Homo sapiens: one gene and its partners. The protein of the gene in region 1 purifies or fractionates together with the protein of each later gene. This does not show direct contact. Each region holds a gene or a part of one and is shown on either strand. Other genes may lie near its edges.

Evidence for each region. The genes of interacting proteins can lie anywhere in the genome.
Region 2: the proteins of DDX21 (region 1) and DKC1 purify together in Homo sapiens (co-immunoprecipitation; 3 studies listed by BioGRID and IntAct, with this or other methods). This does not show direct contact.
Region 3: the proteins of DDX21 (region 1) and STAU2 purify together in Homo sapiens (affinity purification with mass spectrometry; 2 studies listed by BioGRID and IntAct, with this or other methods). This does not show direct contact.

What each region holds. Positions count from the first base shown.
Region 1 is NC_000010.11:68,966,170-68,973,169, reverse strand, and holds part of DDX21 (nucleolar RNA helicase 2), read right to left. Parts: intron 6,153-7,000; coding exon 5,967-6,152; intron 4,195-5,966; coding exon 4,049-4,194; intron 2,970-4,048; coding exon 2,820-2,969; intron 1,280-2,819; coding exon 1,118-1,279; intron 1-1,117.
Region 2 is NC_000023.11:154,772,843-154,778,208, reverse strand, and holds the end of DKC1 (H/ACA ribonucleoprotein complex subunit DKC1), read right to left. Parts: intron 5,079-5,366; coding exon 4,960-5,078; intron 3,608-4,959; coding exon 3,504-3,607; coding exon of another isoform or gene 3,500-3,503; exon of another isoform or gene 3,015-3,499; coding exon 2,936-3,014; intron 2,023-2,935; coding exon 1,885-2,022; intron 1,411-1,884; coding exon 1,342-1,410; 3' UTR 520-1,341; downstream 1-519.
Region 3 is NC_000008.11:73,421,822-73,428,861, reverse strand, and holds part of STAU2 (double-stranded RNA-binding protein Staufen homolog 2), read left to right. Parts: intron 1-6,159; coding exon 6,160-6,248; intron 6,249-7,040. UniProt on the Homo sapiens protein: RNA-binding protein required for the microtubule-dependent transport of neuronal RNA from the cell body to the dendrite.

The DNA.
Region 1 (7,000 bases):
AGGCTGGAGTGCAGTGGCATGATCTCAGCTCACTGCAACCTCCGCCTACCGGGTTCAAGTGATCTTGCTGTCTCAGCCTCCCAAGTAGCTGGGACAACAGGCACCTGACACCAGGCCTGGCTAATTTTTGTATTTTTAGTATAGACAGGGTTTCACAGAGTTTCACCATATTGGCCAGGCTGGTCTCGAACTCCTGACCTTAAGTGATTCGTTTGCCTCAGCCGCCCAAGGTGCTGGGATTACAGACATGAGCCACCACGCCTGTCAGAATATCCAAGTCTTATCATTTCAATATACTATCTATACAAACCAGGGTACCAATGCAATATTTTGTATTTTTTCGTAAGTCTTCAAAATCCAGACCGCATAATAAAAAGTTAGGCAGTATGTATTTTACACTTGCAGTACACAGATCAATTCAGACCACCTACATTTCAAGTGCTCAACACAGCTAGTGGCTACCATATCAAAAAGTCTAAAGGCTCGTGAAACAATGTTTATACCACACACTCATGGGACTTCCTTTTTAAGAATTGGTGAATTCATAGTCTTCAGTTATTTTTCCCCATTGTTGTAAGCAGCCTTTAACCATGGGGGATTTGCCAATTTGGGTGAGATTTTGGGGTCCTCATGTTGGAAGTGATTGGAATACCTTTGGAACAACCTTTATTTACGTGAAGAACTATCCACATCAAGTAAACTATGATTCAGGGTCCTCCTTGAGAGGTTCCTATAACTCACAAACCTAAGCATCTCTAACCACAGAGGTTAATTACAGGCCCTTTCTCTCCCCTGTCCTCTAGGCTCATGCATTTATCTACCTTACTTACCCCTATCCCATCTCAGTCCTTCCACCCATCTTCAAGGTTTGGCTCAAAAATCACACTATATCCCCAAGTCACCTTTTGAACCTCTGTCTGCTGACTGCACTTCTACTCAAGTGTCAGTTCTGAGGGGGGTGTCTGATAACAGGTTCATTCTCAAAATCACCCTTAGCATCCCAGCACTCAAAAGATAGCTATATACTAATGACATGAAAGTAAATAATACAATTTCCAATTTGTTTTAATACCCAAAAAAAACAAAACAAAATAAAATCTAAGCATAAAGCACATACCTTTGGTGGAGAGCTTTGTATAACCAAATCAACCTCAGGGATGTCTAACCCACGTGCAGCAACATTGGTTGCCACCAAAACTCCAAAACTACCATTTCTAAAACCTTTCAGGGTGATTTCCCTTTGCTTCTGTGGAATGTCTCCATGCAAGGACTGAGCATCCTGCCAATAAATAAACGGATGTAAGAACACCAGTTCCAACAATACAAGTACTTTTTCTCTTCATCAGTTAGGCCTGTAAAAGACATTCATATTTTGGTGACATGCCTGTTGAAAACATTACAAAGGGGAAAATGTGTCTTGAATGGATAAGCCTCAATATTATTTCCAAATCCTCAGTTATCAATTCCAACTGTATCCAACTTTACTTATTGAAGTTGAGAATGAGACAAGAGTGATCAAACCTATTTTATCAGTGTAACCTTAGGTCTGAGCCACCCTTTCCTCATTTGTGTGATGAGATGCCATGACAGATTAAGTGAGTTCTAACATGTACCCTCTGATCATTAGAAAGAAGTGAGGCCAGGTGCAGTAGCTCATGCACTTTGGGAGGCCCAGACAGGCAGACTGCTTGAGGCTGGGGTTTGAGACCAGCCTGGGCAATATGGCAAGACTCGGTCTCTACTAAAAATAGAAAAAAAATTTAAAAAAATAAAATTAGTTGGGGGTGGGTAGGAGAATAGCTAATCCTGCTAATAAATGCTGGGCTTAATACCTAGGTTATGGGATGATCTGTGCAGCAAACCACCTTGGCATACATTTAGCTATGTAACAAACCTGTACATCCTCACATGTACCCCTGAACCTAAAAGTTGAAGATAAAAAAAGTCTTCCCAATTAGATAGTGGTGACTGTGGCACAACCTCATGATTATGCTAAAAGCCACTGAACTGTACACTTTAAAATGATAATATGTGGCACATGAATTATATCAATAATAAAACACCATCCAGAAAAAAAAAGCCAGGTATGGTGGTGCATGCTACCTGGAGGTTGAGGCTACAGTGATCCGAGACCACGCCAATGCACTTCACTTCAGCCTGGGCAAAGGGAGTGAGACCCTGTCTCCAAAAAAAAAAAAAAAAAAAAAAAAAAAATTAGGCTGGGCGCAGTGGCTCATGCCTATAATCCCAGCATTCTGAGTGGCCGAGGCAGGTGGATCACTTGAGGTCAGGAGTTCGAGACCAACCCGGCCAACACGGTGAAACCCCATCTCTACTAAAAATACAAAAATTAGCTGGGCATGCTGGCACGTGCCTGTAATCGCAGCTACTTGGGAGGCTGAGGCAGGAGAACTGCTTGAACCCAAGAAGCGGAGGTTTCAGTGAGCCAAGATCACACCATTGCAGTCCAGCCTGGGCGAAGAAGCGAGACCCCCTCTCAAAAAAATAAAGAAAAAACAAAATTAACCAGGAATGGTGGTGCTCACTTGTAATCCCAGCTACTCGGGAGACTGAGGTGGGAGAATCACTTGAACTCAGGAGGCAGAGAGCCCAGATCACACCACTGCACTCCAGCCTGGGTAACAGAATGAGACTCTGCCTCAATTAAAAAAAAAAAAAAAAAAGTAGCTTCCTCTCATTTCTAAACTAAACTAAACTGGTATTCACTGAATGAATGAAAATCAGACCAAGAGCAGATATGCCCAAGGTGAAGATTTGTTGATATCCCCAGTTTTGCTGGCATAAGGGGAAGGACCAACCTGCTTTATAGCTGAATTCTGGGACAGCTCCTGGGCTTCTTTCTTGGTTTCACAAAAGATGATAGTGCGTCCTTGATGACCACTATATACTCGGATGACATCCCCAATAACTGCTGCCCTCTGAGTCCAGTGGCACTTAATAGCCAGATGCTTATGTAAGAAGAAAAAAAACATCTATTTAGTAAAGCTTTGCTGGAAACTAAAATCACAACACAATGATCAGTGAGCACAACACTAATGTTCTAATGTCTTGCTCCTGGAAACAACTACTCAAGCCTGATAAGAGCTGTCTGCAGCCACCACTGACAGAAAAAAACCTAAATAAGCCAGTAAAGCAGAAAGCAACATGATCTGCCCATCTCCCCATGCCTCTCCCCTTTCTCTAAAGAGCATCTAACTTCTTTATTTTCTGACAACCAGGAAAATGCAGGAAAGGAAATGCCACTCCCTAGCTTTCTACAGGAAACCAAATAACCAACAAATTTCTGTATGTTTTGCCTTTTCATTTACTTAAAAACCCAATCTGTAGTAGATTAATATACAGGTCTGTTCCTCAGTGAAATTAATTCATCTAGATTATCAGAATCAAAGGTGAAATTTTAAACTTCAACACTTTTAAGCTTAAACACAAAGCACTAGATTTCTCTGCTGCCCTCTAATGTTTAAATTTTAAGTGTGATTTATGTTTACATAACTCAGATAGATTTAAGTTCCAAATCATTCTGAAATGAAATGAGGCCATAGATGATGAAATTTTAAAAACACAGATATCGGGCCGGGCGTGGTGGCTCACACCTGTAATCCCAGCACTTTGGGAGGCCGAGATGGGCAGATCACGAGGTCAAGAGATTGAGACTATCCTGGCCAACATGGTGAAACCCTGTCTCTACTAAAAATACAAAAATTAGCTGGGCGTGGTAGCGCATGCCTGTAGTCCCAGCCACTCAGGAGGCTGAGGCAGGAGAATCACTTGAACCTGGGAGGTGGAGGTTGCAGTGAACGGAGATTGCGCCACTGCACTCCAGCCTGGTGACAGAGCGAGACTCCATCTCAAAAAATAAAAATAAAAACACAGATATCATATACAGCTCAAATAGAAATATTTTTCCTTGGCTTTTCACATGGATTTAGTATTTATCTGGAAAAAGAGCATTTGCCAGTCTTAATACTAACAGACAAGAAAAAAATATATACAATTTTATATTCTGGCAACTAAGTAAATAATTTACCTCCACAGTTATTGCCGTTTTCTGAGTCTTTTTACCAATCAGGTCCACCTGTTCATATGTAGATTTCATGTATTTCTTGGCAACATTAAATACCCAATGAGGGCAAGTTGCAGAAAAAAGCAATGTTTGGGGATTGTCTTCAGAATCTTTGAGGAGGGGGAAAAAAAAAGTCAGTATGAATAATCCAAACAAGCCTACATAGTATTCCACCTAACCTAATACTTCCACAGTCCATCAATGTTCACCAGCAACCACCTGAGGCCAAGTCGGGCACTGAGGACACAAAACTGGAAGACAGAGGTTTCCCAATGGGCAAAGAAATACCGCTAGGTAATTTATCTAAAAGATCCTTAAAATAGTGAAAGTACTTTAAAGTTATTTTGCTTTCTGACCATTAGGCTTTTGAATTACAAACGAAATCTATTCTAAGATTTCTATTCTCAATATTTTATGAATTTAGAATTCTTGTCCAATCATTGAGTCCAGCTACTATTTTTGTTTGTTCAATTCTACTTAAGAGTGACATCACATTCTCAAACATTCCAAATAGAAGTGTGATAGAACCCTTCTGGAGAGAATTTGACAATGTATATTGAGGAGCATGAATTTTTTACACTTTTAAGCTCAGTAATTCCACTTCTGGAAATCTATCCTAAAGAACCAATTCCAGGCCAGGCACAGTGGCTCATGCCTGTAATTCCAATGCTTTCAGAGGTGGAGGCAGGAGGATCACTTGAGGCCAGGAATCAAGACAAGCCTGGGCAACACAGTGAGACCCTGTCTCTATCAATAATAAAAACATTAGCCAGGCATGGTGGCGCACGCCTGTAGCCCTAAGCTACTCAGGAAGCTGAGGCCCAGGAGTTTAGGGATGCAGTGAGCTATGATGGTGCCACTGTACTATAGCCTGAGTGACAGGGTGAGGGCCTATCTTAAAAATAAAAAAAGGGCGGCCGCGGTAGAGCACATCTGTAATCCCAGCATTCTGGGAGGCCAAAGTGGGAGGGAAGATCACTTGAGTCCAAGAGTTCAAGACCAGCATGGTGAAACCCAGCTCTACAAAAAACAGAAAAATTAGCTGGGCATGGTGGCGCACATCTATAGTCCCAGCTACTCGGAGGATTGCTTCAACCTGGAAGGTGGAGGCTGCAATGAGCCAAGATCCCACCACTGCACTCCAGCCTGGGTGACAGATTTAGACCCTGTCTCAAAAAAAAAAACAAAAAACAATTCCAGATATTGAGGTGAGAAGCTATCTGTATAAAAGTGGCTAAACAGAACTATTTATATTGAATAAAAATCAAACTAGGCAGATGGTAGAATTAAGTCATGGCCAACCACTTCATACAGTATTTTTGCTGAATTTTTATATGTATAGTCAGAGTATAATCAACACATATATACAATAAAATGCAAAACATCAGGAATACACCAAAAGCAGACCACATCAAGATGACAGAAGATGGTATTTTTCTTTACTTTTCCAAGTTTTCCCCATTGTGGTAATATGATAAATCATGACTTTTTTTTTCCTCACCAGCTTTAATCCCAGAGTAATGACTTTTTTTTTTTAATCCAAGTTTCTAGATAAAATGAGCCCCATTCCAATTTCCCAAGGCTTTATTAATCTCTTAGAAAACTACTTAGTCACCAGGCCAGGCGCAGTGGCTCATGCCTCTAATCCCAGCACTTTGGGAGGGTGAGGCAGTCGGATCACCTGGGGCTGGGAGTTTGAGACCAGCCTGGGCAATATGGCAAAACCCCATCTCTACTAAAAATACGAGGCCAGGCGTGGTGGTGGGTGCCTGTAATCCCAGTTACTAGGGTGGCTGAGGCATGAGAGTCACTTGAACCCAGGAGACAGAGTTACCACCCTTCCTTTGGTCTTTTTTATCAGCTTCTTGAATTTGTGGATTACCTTTCTTGTATGCCACACTTAAAATCTCTTCCACTTGATCAGCAAATCCCATATCCAACATCTGGTCCACTTCATCCAGGACAACATGCTTAAGTTTGGTGAGATCTAGTTTGCCATTCTGTATGTGGTCTTTGATACGACCTGGTGTTCCAACCAGGATATCAATCCCATTCCTCATGCGTTCAACTATAAAAAACAATGACAAGATTTGCTGGGTTTTTAGTAAGTACTTTTATCTGTGTGGGGTACCACAGTTAACTGTATTGTTACTCTAAAATATTTGTTAAATACCTACAAGTACAAAGTAATATGCTAAGTAATAATGATAAAGATACTCATGGCACTCCTAATCTAGTGGGAAAAACATTAGAAGTGAAAAATATCAACAAAATTTAAAGCACCCAATTATAGTAAATATTTGAAGTGACAGTCTAGTGTACAAAGTGACATAAAAGAAATATGCAGCCGGGCGTGGTGGGTCACGCCTGTAATCCCAGCACTTTGGGAGGCCAAGGTGGGTGGATCATGAGATCAGGAGTTTAAGACCAGCCTGGCCAACATGGTGAAACACCATCTTTACTAAAACTACAAAAATTAACCAGGCGCAGTGGTGGGCGCCTGTAATCCCAGCTACTCGGGAGGCTGAGGCAGGAGAATCGCTTGAACCTGGGCAACAGAGGTTGCAGTGAGCCAAGATCACGCCACTGCACTCCAGCCTGGGCCACAGAGTGAGACTCTGTCTCACCAAATAAATAAATAAATAAATGAAAAAGAAAGAAAGAAATATGCACTACTGGAGGACAATAGCATCAGGAAAGAAATTACTTCCGGCTGGGCACGGTGGCTCACGCCTGTAATCCCAGCACTTTGGGAGACTGAGGCTGGCAGATCATGAGGTCAGGAGTTCGAGATCAGCCTGGCCGATATGGTGAAACCCTGTCTCTACTAAAAATACAAAAATTAGCCGGGCGTGGGAGCCTCCCAGGTTCACGCCACTCTCCTGCCTCAGCCTCCCGAGTAGCTGGGACTACAGG
Region 2 (5,366 bases), on another chromosome or scaffold:
TTCCAGGGGATTCTCCTGCCTCAGCCTCCCGAGTAGCTGGGATTACAGGCACACGCCACCACACCTGGCTAATTTTTGTATTTGTAGTAGAGATGGGTTTTGCCATGTTGGCCCAGGCTGGTCTCAGACTCCTGACCTCGGGTGATCTGCCCGCCTCAGCCTCCCAAAGCACTGGGATTATAGGTGTGAGCCATTGCACCCGGCCTCTTTCTTGGTTCTTAATACCAAATCGGAAGCAACCCTAGACCTTTCTTCCACTAATCTGTCACCAAGGCCTTCAGATTCCTGCATGTCCCCACCCTCAGCTTCGTTCTCCCGACTCACCCTGCCCCCCGCTCCTGCCAGGCCCACTATGTATAAATACATTAACCCTCTCCTTCTCTGTTCTTCTAGAGATCAGTGGTTTTGTGGTAATCACTGCCTCTGAGTACTTGATCTCACATCAGATGACAGGGCCCAAGGTGGATTGTGTAAGATACAGAACAAAAATGTAAAAACCAGAAAACAAACATAAAAGCATCACATTTCAAATAGGACATAAAGGTCCCTAGATTTTTAATCAAAATATTTTACAATTTTTGCTCTGCTAGCATGAGATCAACAAGAAAACCCAACAGGAATACATAAAAAACTTAACAAGTTGACTTTAATAAGTAAAAATTACAACATTCTTCTCCCAGCAATGAACAATTTCATTTTTTAAAAGTAAACGAGGCCTAAAACAAGAGGGCACAGGAACAAGTAGTCAGATGGATTTAGGTGAGCACTGTACACAAGCTTTGAGGAAGTGCAAAGGACTGACCTCTAGGCCAGAACAAGATGGAAAACTACCAGGCCCATCAGGCCTATAACCCAGACACCAGCATGGACAAAACTCAGTTATACTGAATTCAGAGACAAAATTCAGTGACACTCTTCTACCACTTATTTAGGGTTCTACAGCATTTCACTGAGCAGACTTAGTTTTTTGTTTTTGTTTTACAAACCTTTTAAACAGAGGGGATTTAAAAAATGCAAACTAGGACTACGATGTTAAGACAACCACTAGCAGACAGCTGCGGACAGTTACTGGGTCTGAAGGTGAGGCTTCCCAACTCAAACAGAGAAGTCATTGGGATAAACTCTGCCTCTTTCATCTTTCACCACCCATATCCTTAAAACAGGACAAGATGGGATGACCACACCAGGTAACATCACCGAGGTCTCAAAGTAGCAGCTAAAATGTGCCAGAACTCTTCACCCTGTCTAGGACCTATGTTCCACTCTCTCAGCAACAAAAGGATCTATAACATGTTTTCTCAATAAGGCTTTAGTTTCTCCTCCAGCTTCAAGTGGCCTTCACTACTCAGAAACCAATTCTACCTCTTTTGCTTTCTTCTTCTTCTTCTTCTTCTTGGTGGTATCACTGTCCTAGAAAGAAAGAGAATGAAAGCTCACAGATACCATCCACTAACAAAGCTATGACTCTCCCAGAAGGAAATCTGGTAAAGGTCCACAGTCAAGCAAGCCTTTTTCAGGACCTGTAAGGATATTTTGGGTTAAATGCTGCATGTGACACAAAGTTCTGTAAACCTTTCAGTGACACCCTAGTGGTCTACTTTTGGAAGTGGAAACATTCAGATCACCATCCTACACATCCTCTCCACCCACCATCAATAGAGCTCTAAGTATAAGTGGTAGAGGTCGGGTGCCTCTATCTGTCCATTCCACAGGGAGGGCAAAAGCACTCCAGGAACATGGGGAAGCACTAAAGGCACTCGGTGGCATCCCACCCCCAGGCCACAGCTCCTCCAAGAAGAGTAACAAAGCTGGTACCACCTGGGTAATTCTTTCCCCACGCAGGGACTAAGCCAGCCCAAGGAACCTGAACGTGTTTCCACACACCCCATCTCCAGGCTCGGCCCCGCTCTCCAGACCAGCTTTGGCCTTCTTGTCCTTCTTACTCTTCTTCTTTTCCTTCTTGATCAACTGAGGAGCTGCTGGAGGAGTCTCGTCACTTTCACTCTCACTCTCTCGCTTCCGCTGAGATGAAAGCAATTGGTTAAGTGTTAGATCTTGGGCAATAATGGACAAGAAAGGTTCAGTGAGTCAAAAGGTAGCAAGGCACCAAGAAAGATCCCAACTGAATCTAACAGGACGTTTTCTGACTACAAACCCGGACAGGGCCTTAGTTTACTGAGGATTTGAAGACAGTCTCATCCCCCAAATCCAAGAAGCCTTGAGGCAGGCACAAGAGAAGGAGCACAGCAGCAGCACGGGGCTTGGGGTGGAAAGGCCCGGAGGAGCTGTTTCTCTCATGACTGCAAGGACCTCTCACAGAAAGCAGGCAAAGCAGGAATTCACATCTGACAAGTCAGAAGCTCCTCCCACACAGCCTGTGCAGGATACTCAGTACCGCCCCCGGTTTCTGAGTGCAGACCTGTCATTCTGTGCTCTAATGCCAGCAGCTCCATGGGGTGGAGTTGCCAACCCATGCTTGACTGACTCTTTCAACACTGGGTGGTGCCAGGTTAAGATGCAATTCTGCTCTCTGCTGAATTTTGTATGGCCTCGAATGTCCAACAGCCATGGCCTCTGATTTCAACACATCTGTCCTACCATTTGACCCAGGGCGGGGGCCAGAATTGACACACACACCACCACCCATTCCATCACTGTGTTGCTGCCATAGCTGAGGTAGGAGTCGAGGCCCATCTGATTCCTGAGCCCACATTCCTCCTCCCAGCAGATAGGACAGAGAATACAAATCAGAGGAGCCTGCAGAGCCCAAACAAGCACCCCAGGGTATGAGGCAGCATTACCTGTGTATGCGCTGCACCTCTGATGCTAGCGTATATGGCTGGACTGCGGACAGTCACAAAGTAAGACGAATGCCAGTGCCTCTTAGGATTATCTCCCTAAGCACATTCCAAACTGAGGACAGCATGCCACTCACCTTCGCAGTTTTTGCTGCTTCGGCAACTACCTGCGGGGCTTTTACCACTTCAGCAACCACCTCTTTTTTGGCAGACTCACTGAAAAAGAGGTAGCAATAGGTCAAATTCACTGAATGGCTTTCCAGGGCAGTACTGATGTTATGTAGTGTTATCTGGCAAGTCTAAAGCCACCATCAAAATACTGACGCTGGACAGAAGAACTCACCACTTACTGTTGCAGACTGACTCCCTCTAGAGTCCCACGAGCCAGACTAGAAAGGGATAACTGTCTGCCGTGCAGGCCCACACCCCTAACTGGCCTGGGCAGCCAAAATCTCACGGGAGCTGAAGAGCTGGTTCCTGTGGTCCTGCATTTAGCAAGTTTGCCCCAAACCAAGTGACTCCCCCTCCCCTGGGCTCTACAACCTCCATGCTCACCTGTTCCTCACCTGTTGTCCATGTACTCCTGCGTCCAGATGGCAAGTGGGCTCTACCTTCCCATCCTCACCTGTTGTTGACATACTCCTGCATCAAGGCAGCAAGTGTGCCGTCTCTACCCACCCCGGCTCTGAAACATCCTGCCCTCACCTGTAGTCAACATACTCCTGCTTCCAGGTGGCAGGTGTGCTGTCTGTGGGCTTCCCATGCTTGTCCAGAAGGCCCTGCTTGATCATCAGCTTCTTCTGACTTGCCTGGTGGAACATCAAGGTGTCAACATTAGAATGGTGTCAATGCTGGAAGCGGGCATGGTGACTACAAAGAATAGAACAAGGTTCCTCCCTGGTGTATTCTCAGCAGGGCCTCAAACTCCTCTCCAGAGCATTCAGAATTTGCCCACTAACTCCAACACACACAGGACTTGTTGAAGATCACAAAGCTTATTAGTGAGAGCCTCTGCAGACATAACGTCCCCACCGCAGCCACTCTACTTTTTTGCCTTTGCACATGCTGCTTGCTCCCAATGCCCTGAACTCTCCCCTCCCCTCTTCACTTCACCAACACCTAACCCACTCTTCACACCGGTGTGGCTTAACAGACAATCCCTTGACCAGACTCCTTGACCACTGTGGACACTCCAGGTGACAGACACCTCTCTGCACTCCTTGGTAGCCACTAACGTGCATGAAATTCGCCATTCCACTGTGTGATTACGTGAGTAATGCCCAACTGTTTCCCCTCATTAGACTGAAATCTCTAAGGCCCAAGACAGGGCCTGTTTCCACTCATCGACAACCCAGAGCCCAGCACAATACAAGGCTGTGGTGGTGAAACACACCAAGAGCTGCCCAAGTATTCAACAATGCCAAACAAAAGAACCTGGCAGGAGCCGCCCCATCCGGGAGGGAGGTGGGGGGGGGTCAGCCCCCCCGCCCGGCCAGCCGCCCCGTCCGGGAGGTGAGGGGCGCCTCTGCCCGGCCGCCCCTACTGGGAAGTGAGGAGCCCCTCTGCCCGGCCGCCACCCCGTCTGGGAGGTGTGCCCAACAGCTCATTGAGAACGGGCCAGGATGGCAATGGCGGTTTTGTGGAATAGAAAGGCGGGAAAGGTGGGGAAAAGATTGAGAAATCGGATGGTTGCCGTGTCTGTGTGGAGAGAAGTAGACATGGGAGACTTTTCATTTTGTTCTGCACTAAGAAAAACTCTTCTGCCTTGGGATCCTGTTGATCTGTGACCTTACCCCCAACCCTGTGCTCTCTGAAACATGTGCTGTGTCCACTCAGGGTTAAATGGATTAAGGGCGGTGCAAGATGTGCTTTGTTAAACAGATGCTTGAAGGCAGCATGCTCCTTAAGAGTCATCACCACTCCCTAATCTCAAGTAATCAGGGACACAGACACTGCGGAAGGCCGCAGGGTCCTCTGCCTAGGAAAACCAGAGACCTTTGTTCACTTGTTTATCTGCTGACCTTCCCTCCACTATTGTCCCATGACCCTGCCAAATCCCCCTCTGTGAGAAACACCCAAGAATTATCAATAAAAAAATAAATTTAAAAAAAAAAAAAAAAAAAAAAGAACCTGGCAGGGCACGCAACCCAGTACCACTTACCTTTGGACCTAAACCCCACTTCCGAGGGTAAGTGTCTCTCTCCATGATCACTCTCTTGATCTTGGCTACTATACCATGGTCGCAGGTAGAGATGACCGCTGTGGTCATTAATGCAATAGCTACAGGCATTGAATAAAGAAAAGAATTATTTGAAGGGTGAAAGAATTGATAATTGATGAGCCCCAATTCTACTGTTGTATGCCACTTTAAAACTTTTAAAACTCTGAGCTACTACTTTAATTGGGGTTACCTTTGCTCAGGATGTGCATATGGAGGAAATACTCCATTATGAGAAGGAGGCCTTTGAAATGACGTTAAACTTCTGAAGTTAAAAAACACCTAACCAAAGCACCTAACGATACACATAACAGGCTTGCAGCTCAAGACGTCTATAAGAACGGCATGCA
Region 3 (7,040 bases), on another chromosome or scaffold:
TAAAACGCTGAAGCTGCTCCCTGAGACCTGGCCTTCGTCTCATATATGCAGTTCTCTTCAGATGGAAGAGAGCAGGTGCCATGGGTCCTGGACTGGGTGAAGCAGGTCATTTGGTTCTGGTGTTCAGGCCACACTAAGAACCAAGTATTCCCAGTGTACCTAGTGAAAACAGGCTATAAGTAGCCTAAAAACGATTTTTTAAAAGATTTTTAAAAATTGTTTTTAGTTGTTGTTTTGCCCTTGCTAGGAATAAAACAGGACCGAGAAGCCCTAGAGCTCGTAGGAACCCCATTCAGCAGTATCACATTGCACAGTTCCATTTCCTGGCTCTCAGTAGCCCTCTGTGATGGTGCTTTTGGGATCCAGCACTGTCACATCTGGGTATTTACCTAAAAAGTTTGAAATTTGTGTGTCAAGAGATATCTGCACCCTCATGTTTATTGCAACAGTATTCACAATAGCAAAGATGTGGGATCAACCTAAATGTCCATTAATGGATGAATGGAAAAAGAAAATGTGGTATATAGACACAATGGAATATGTTCAGCTTTTAAAAAGGAAGAAATTATGTCATTTGCAACAACATGGATAGAATTGGAGAACATTATGCTAAGTGAAATATGCCAAACATAGACAAATCCCACATGTTCTCATTTATATGTGAGATATAAAACAATTGAACTCCCAGAAGCAGAGAGTACAGTGGTGGGTACAGAGGCTGGGGGTAGGTGGAATGGGAAAATGATAGTCAAAGGGTACAAAGTCTCAGTCAGATAAAAAGGATAAGTTTGATTTTTTTGGACATCTACTGCACAGTGTGGTGAATATAGCTAACAGTTGAGTACTGCACATTTTGATATTGCTCTGAGAGTATATTTCAGGTGTTGTCATCACAGAAAATGTTAAATAATTTATCATTATGTTACAAAAAATAATAAAATTTCAAATGTAATTGTCCACTTTGGAAGAAATTCATAAATTTCAGAATTTATGCCAATAATTCACATTTTAATGGCTCAGAAGAAAAGTAACTGGTCTTTTGTTAAAACTGTTGAATATACAAAGAACTTGAAGTTCATGAGCCCACTCCGTGAAAATGGGAATATCTGGAAAAAGGTCTGGCATGGATTGGTCCTTGGAGCCTACAAGTGAGTGAGCCTGGCCTTTAGCGCCCCACGCGCATGTGTGAGGTGGGACAGTGGGCCCCGGTTGATGGACACAGGCTGTGGGCACATGCACTGCCCTCAGCATAGCCGCCTTAGCACTTCAGGACTTAAAAGGACCTCAGAGTCACTGAATCAAAGCTCCCTGAGAGTCAAATTCCTCTGTGAATTCCTTTCTTGCAGGGAGGGTGGGGAGAACTGTCCAAACCTCAGTCTTTTGAGGGTGAGTTTAATTTTTGAAAACAGCAAAACTTCAGACAAAGCCAAGTCTAGTGAAGAAGGTCAACAACCAGGATGAACACATTAAAATAAGGTGGGGCCAAAAGATGACAAAACTGGTTTGCTTCTCTGACCCACAAAATGGTTCTGAGAGGTAATTCCAGAAGCACCTAGAGTAACACCCTCCTCCCACTGCTGCTGCCGGCACAACCTCTCCAAGGGTGGATAGAGAGCTCATATTAACATCTTTAAGGCTGGGCACAGTGGCTCACGCATGTAATCCTAGCACTTTGGGAGGCTGAGGCAGGCGGGTCACCTGAGGTCGGGAGTTCGAGACCAGCCTGACCAACATGGAGAAACCCCATCTCTACTAAAAACACAAAAGTAATCTGGCGTGGTGGTGCATGCCTGTAATCCCAGCTACTCGGGAGGCTGAGGCAGGAGAATCGCTTGAACCCGGGAGGCAGAGGTTGTGGTGGGCCGAGTTCACGCCATTGCACTCCAGCCTGGGCAACAAGAGCAAAACTCTGTCTCAAAAAAAAAAAAAAAAAAATCTTTAAAAATGGACATCATCTTTGGCTCAGAAATGCAATTTTAGGAATTTATCATAAGGAAAGTATTGAGATGATGCATAAAGATTGAACCAATAGGAAATTTGATGCAGTGTTGGTATCACACAGGATATCGATAGGATACTGTGCAGTCATGAGAAATGATGCTACCGAAATGTTTCTGTTGATACTGCACACATTCAATGAAAAGAGCACACAACAGATGAACGGACAAAAAACCATGGTATATGTATACAATGGAATACTACTCGGCCGTAAAAAAAGAATGAAATCCTGTCATTTATGGCCATGTGGATGAAACTGGGCGAATGTGAAGTGAAATGAGCAGGGCACAGAAAGTTAAACACCACTTGTTCTTGCTCATGTGTGGAAGCTAAAAAGGTTGATCTTACAGAAGTAAAAAGTAGAACAGAGGATATTAGAGGTTGGGAAGGGTAGGGGGAAGAGAGGGATAGGGAGAAATTTATTAAAGGATACAAAATTATAGCTAGATATGAGGAATAAGTTCTATTGCTCTATACCACTGTAGAAAGACTATAGTTAACAGTAATATGTTCTATAGTTTCAAGCAGCTAGAAGGAGAATATTGTATGAACCCAACAAAAAGAAATGATAAATGTTTGAGATGATTGATGTACTAATTACCTTGATCTGATCACTATGCATTATGTGTATTGCAACATTGTTACCCACCCCATGAATGTGTACAATTATTATTTATCATTGAAAAAAAAAAAAGCAGGTTACCTACAGTGTTAAGACATGATCCAGGCTACAGTTTGTAGACATGGGGAGAGGATACTAAGTGATATGGAGGCTGGGGGCAGAGGCGCATGCCTGTAATCCCAATACTTTGGGAGGCTGGGGCAGGTGGATCACTTGAGGCTAGGAGTTCAAGACCAGCCTGGCCAACATGGTGCAACCCTGTCTCTACTAAAAGTACAAACATTAGCTGGGTGTGGTGGCTCATGCCTGTAATCCCAACTACTCAGGAGGCTGAGGTGCAAGAATTGCTTGAACCCAGGAAGTGGAGGTTGCAGTGAGTCAAGATCACACCACTGCACTCCAGCCTGGGTGACAGAGTAAGACTCCATCTCAAAAAAAAAGAGAGAAAAAAAACAAGTGATATGGAAAGACGTGCGCCAAGATGTGAATGGTGAGCAGGATTGTGGATACTTTTTACATTCTTTTTGCTTGTCTATATATTCTGACTTTTCTGTAACAAAAAACTATTTTTATAACAAAAAATAATACAGGGAGAGAGAGAGAAGAGAGAGAGAGAGAGAGATTTTGCTATCCTTAAAGAGAAGCTATGAGGTCCCTGTACAGTTTGCTGGAGCTGCTGTAGTAAAGTACTACCAACTGAGTGGCTTCATCAACAGGAGTGTATTGTCTCACAGTTCTGGAGGCTAGAAGTTCAAGATCAAGGTGCTGGCAGGGCTGGTTCCTTCTGAAGGCTGTGAGGGAGAATCTGTCCCAGGCCCCTCTCCTCACTTCGAGTGCTTTGCTGGCAATCTTTGGTGTTCCTTGGCTGCTGCGGCATCACTCCAGCCCCTACCACCATCTTCACGTGGCGTTCTCCCTGTGTGGGTCTGTGTTCCAGTTTCCTCTTTTTATAAGGATACCAGTTATATTGGATCAGGGACCTACCCTACTCCAGTATGACCTCATCTTAACTAATTACATCTGTACTAATCCTATTTTTAAATAAGGCCACATTCTATAAGGCCCCATTCTGAGATACTGGGGGTTAGGACTTCAACATATGAATTTGGGGGAAGAGCACAATTCGACCTATAACAGTATCCAGGGAGATGGCCACACAGCTCCCACCCCACTGAAGTTAGCGCCTACCTCCCATCAAAACCCACCTGGCTGTTGTCCAGCATGAGCATGGGCCAGGATCAGGAGCTATGGGGTGGCATCACTGACCTTCTCCCTGCAGCACTCCAGGTCCAAAGAGATTATGATGATAACTGAGACTTGAGCACCACATCCTCCCTGCTTCGGGATGCCCGGGCCAGGGCTGCAGATCTGCATGGGCACTCACATTAGCACCTCTGATCTAGGAAGCCTGATTTAAAGATTTGAAAGGAAGGAGTAATCTAAAGAAAAAGAAAGGACGCATGCCGACTTTTGCTTGGATATAGGATTTGTGATTAAAAAGCAACAATAGAAAAGCAAGAGAGAAGAAAGAAAAAAGTATTATGAATATTACACATTAAATTCCACATATGGATGTTTATAGCAGTTTTATTCATAGTTGCCAAAAACTGGAAACAATCAAGATGTCCTTCAATAAGTGAACGGACAAACTGTGGTGCATCCATGCGATGGGACATTATTCAGCAATAAAAAGGAGCTACGAAGCTCATTTATGAAAAGCCATATCGTTCACAAAAAGAGGGGCCGGGTGCAGTGGCTCACACCTGTAATCCCAGCAGTTTGGGAGGCCAAGGTGGGTGGATCACCCGAGGTCAGGAGTTCGAGACCAGCCTGGCCAACATGGTGAAACCCCGTCTCTACTAAAAATACAAAAATTAGCTGGGTGTGGTGGTGCAGGCCTGCAGTCCCAGCTACTTGGGAGGCTGAGGCAGTAGAATCACTTGAACCCAGGAGGCAGAGGTTGCAGTGAGCCCAGATCGTGCCACTGCACTCCAGCCTGGGCGACAGAGTAAGACTCAGTCAAAAAAAAAAAAAAAAAAAGACATAGAGGAGCTTCAAATATACATTGCTAAGTGAAAAAGCCAATCTGAAAAGGTGACATATTGTATGATCCCAACTGCTATATGGCAAAACTGTAGCGATGGTAAAAAGATTGGTGGTTGCCAGGGGGCTGGTGGGGGTGGGGGGAGGTGAATAGGTGGGGCACAGAGGATTTGTAGGGCTGTGGAACTATTTTATATGATACTCTAATGGTGGATAAATGCCATTAGGCATTTGTTGAAACCCACAGAATGTACCACACAGAGTGAACCCTTATGTAAACCATGGACTTCAGTTAATGATAAGCTATCAATATTTGTTCATCAGCTATAACAAATGTACCATACCAATGCAAGATGTTAATGATTGGGGAAACCGTATTTAGGGGAGGGAAGAATATGGGAACTCTGTGTACTACCTGCCCAAGTTTTCTGTAAACCTCACAAGACTATTAACTAAAAAAGAATCACACCTCCAAAATATATTCTGAATAAAGAAACTTAAAGGAAATCATGCACTTAGTCAGCTACCCTAAAGGAGCTCTTGGCAGATAAAAGTTTGGGAAACCGCCAAGAGCTAGCTCGTTTTCAAAGGCAGCTGAGAAGACACAGATGCCCCAAGTGTGACCCAGCGGGATGCCCCAGGATGAAAACAGCCCTGCCTGCTCATGCCCATCTCAGACTCAGCAGAGCCCTTCCAATCTCACTCAGCAGTGTCGGGCTTGGGGGAGGGGAGGAAGACCCAAATTCTTACTCAAAGAAATAACAGTTTGGAACATGCACAAGAGTGTCAACAAGTTATGTAGATCTTATCAGCATGGCATTTTTGGTGCCTCCCAGCTATACAGCAAGGCTCCACCAGCCTGTTCACACCCTGCGGCTTCCCACGCACCCCGAGCCTATCAACACCTCGGGAGGCTCTGCCCGGCAGGCCTGCCTCCCCAGAACATGACCAGCCCAAACTTTCTCTCTTTCCTCATCCTCTCAGGATCCCATCTTACCATCCATCCCCTCAGTCTGCATGAGGACCTACTGTCCATTCCTCTGCTGACATTCTGTACCTTGACTGGGGCTAAGTGTCTATCAATTTGAACAATACCTTTATGCTTACTTTGGAAAGAATACTCAAGGTGGAAAATTTGGATGTCACACCTGAGAGAAGAGAATGTGTAGTTTCAGTAACGTGAGAAATTATGCAATGTCACCATGGAAGTATTTTAAGCTTATATGAGGTGTTGCCATGTTTGCAGATAAAACATCACAATTTTGCAAAACTGTGGAGAAGGGATAAGGCAGGAGACTTAAAGCCCTTCTAGTTCCGGTTATGTATATACACTGCTGCCTGATCATGCAGACTTTCTAGTGTACTTTTGTTAAACAATGCAAAAAAAAATTATGTAGACTAATGAAAATGAGTCTTTCTATCTCAGCTTTCTTTCAGTTACTTGTTCATTACACTAGAGTCAGTGAATGGCTCTCTCTGTTTGTTTTCATTTTTAGGCAGCCTTAAGTGCCTTGAAACAATTTTCTGAACAAGGACTGGATCCAATCGATGGAGCAATGAATATCGAAAAAGGTTCTCTTGAAAAGTGAGTAAATCCCCTGTCAGTATTCTTACACTTTTAATTGTAACTGTACAAAAGATAAGACATAGATAATAATGTTTTAAAAAGTCGACAATAGTATCTACATCTTACACAATTATTAATAATACAATTAAATGTAAAGAAATGAAAACCAGTATATATGGCCATATACATCTCCTGTAATATTTCTGTGAAAGTTTTAACCTACTAATTGGTCACTGATTTTGCATTTCATTGCTTTGTTGGAAATATTTGTGCATTGTCCTGACTGTAGAGACTTGTAAAACTTACAAAACATTGTTTTTCACTTCATACTGTAGAGCATTGTCTGGCTAAGCCATTTTCAGCGGTGAAAGTTTTCACTCACATTCCTGCTAAGTTGTGGGCAAAGCGGAGAGAAAAGAAAAAGAAGTTGAGAGGAGGCGCCCCTCCCCTCGGCTGCATTCGGTTTTCCGTGTTGTTTTCTATGAAACACCAGCACACATTGCCACAAAGTGTGGCTCCCAAGGGCTACACGGGCAAAAGATGCAGCTGTCGTAATTATTTCTGAAATCCAGCTCATAGCTTTGCTTTAATGAGATGTGAACAGAAGGTCTCACCAAAGAGACTGAATTTGGGGTCTCTCCAGAGACTCAATTTATACTAAAAAAAAAAAAAAAATGGAAAGGGGTTATATTTATATAGTAGAATTCAACCTCTTTCCAAGCAGTAATAATAGCAGGTAGGATCTCAGAACACATGCAGGAGATAACATTTTTAGGTTTAAAAGAAAATAAAAATAGTCAACCCAGGAAG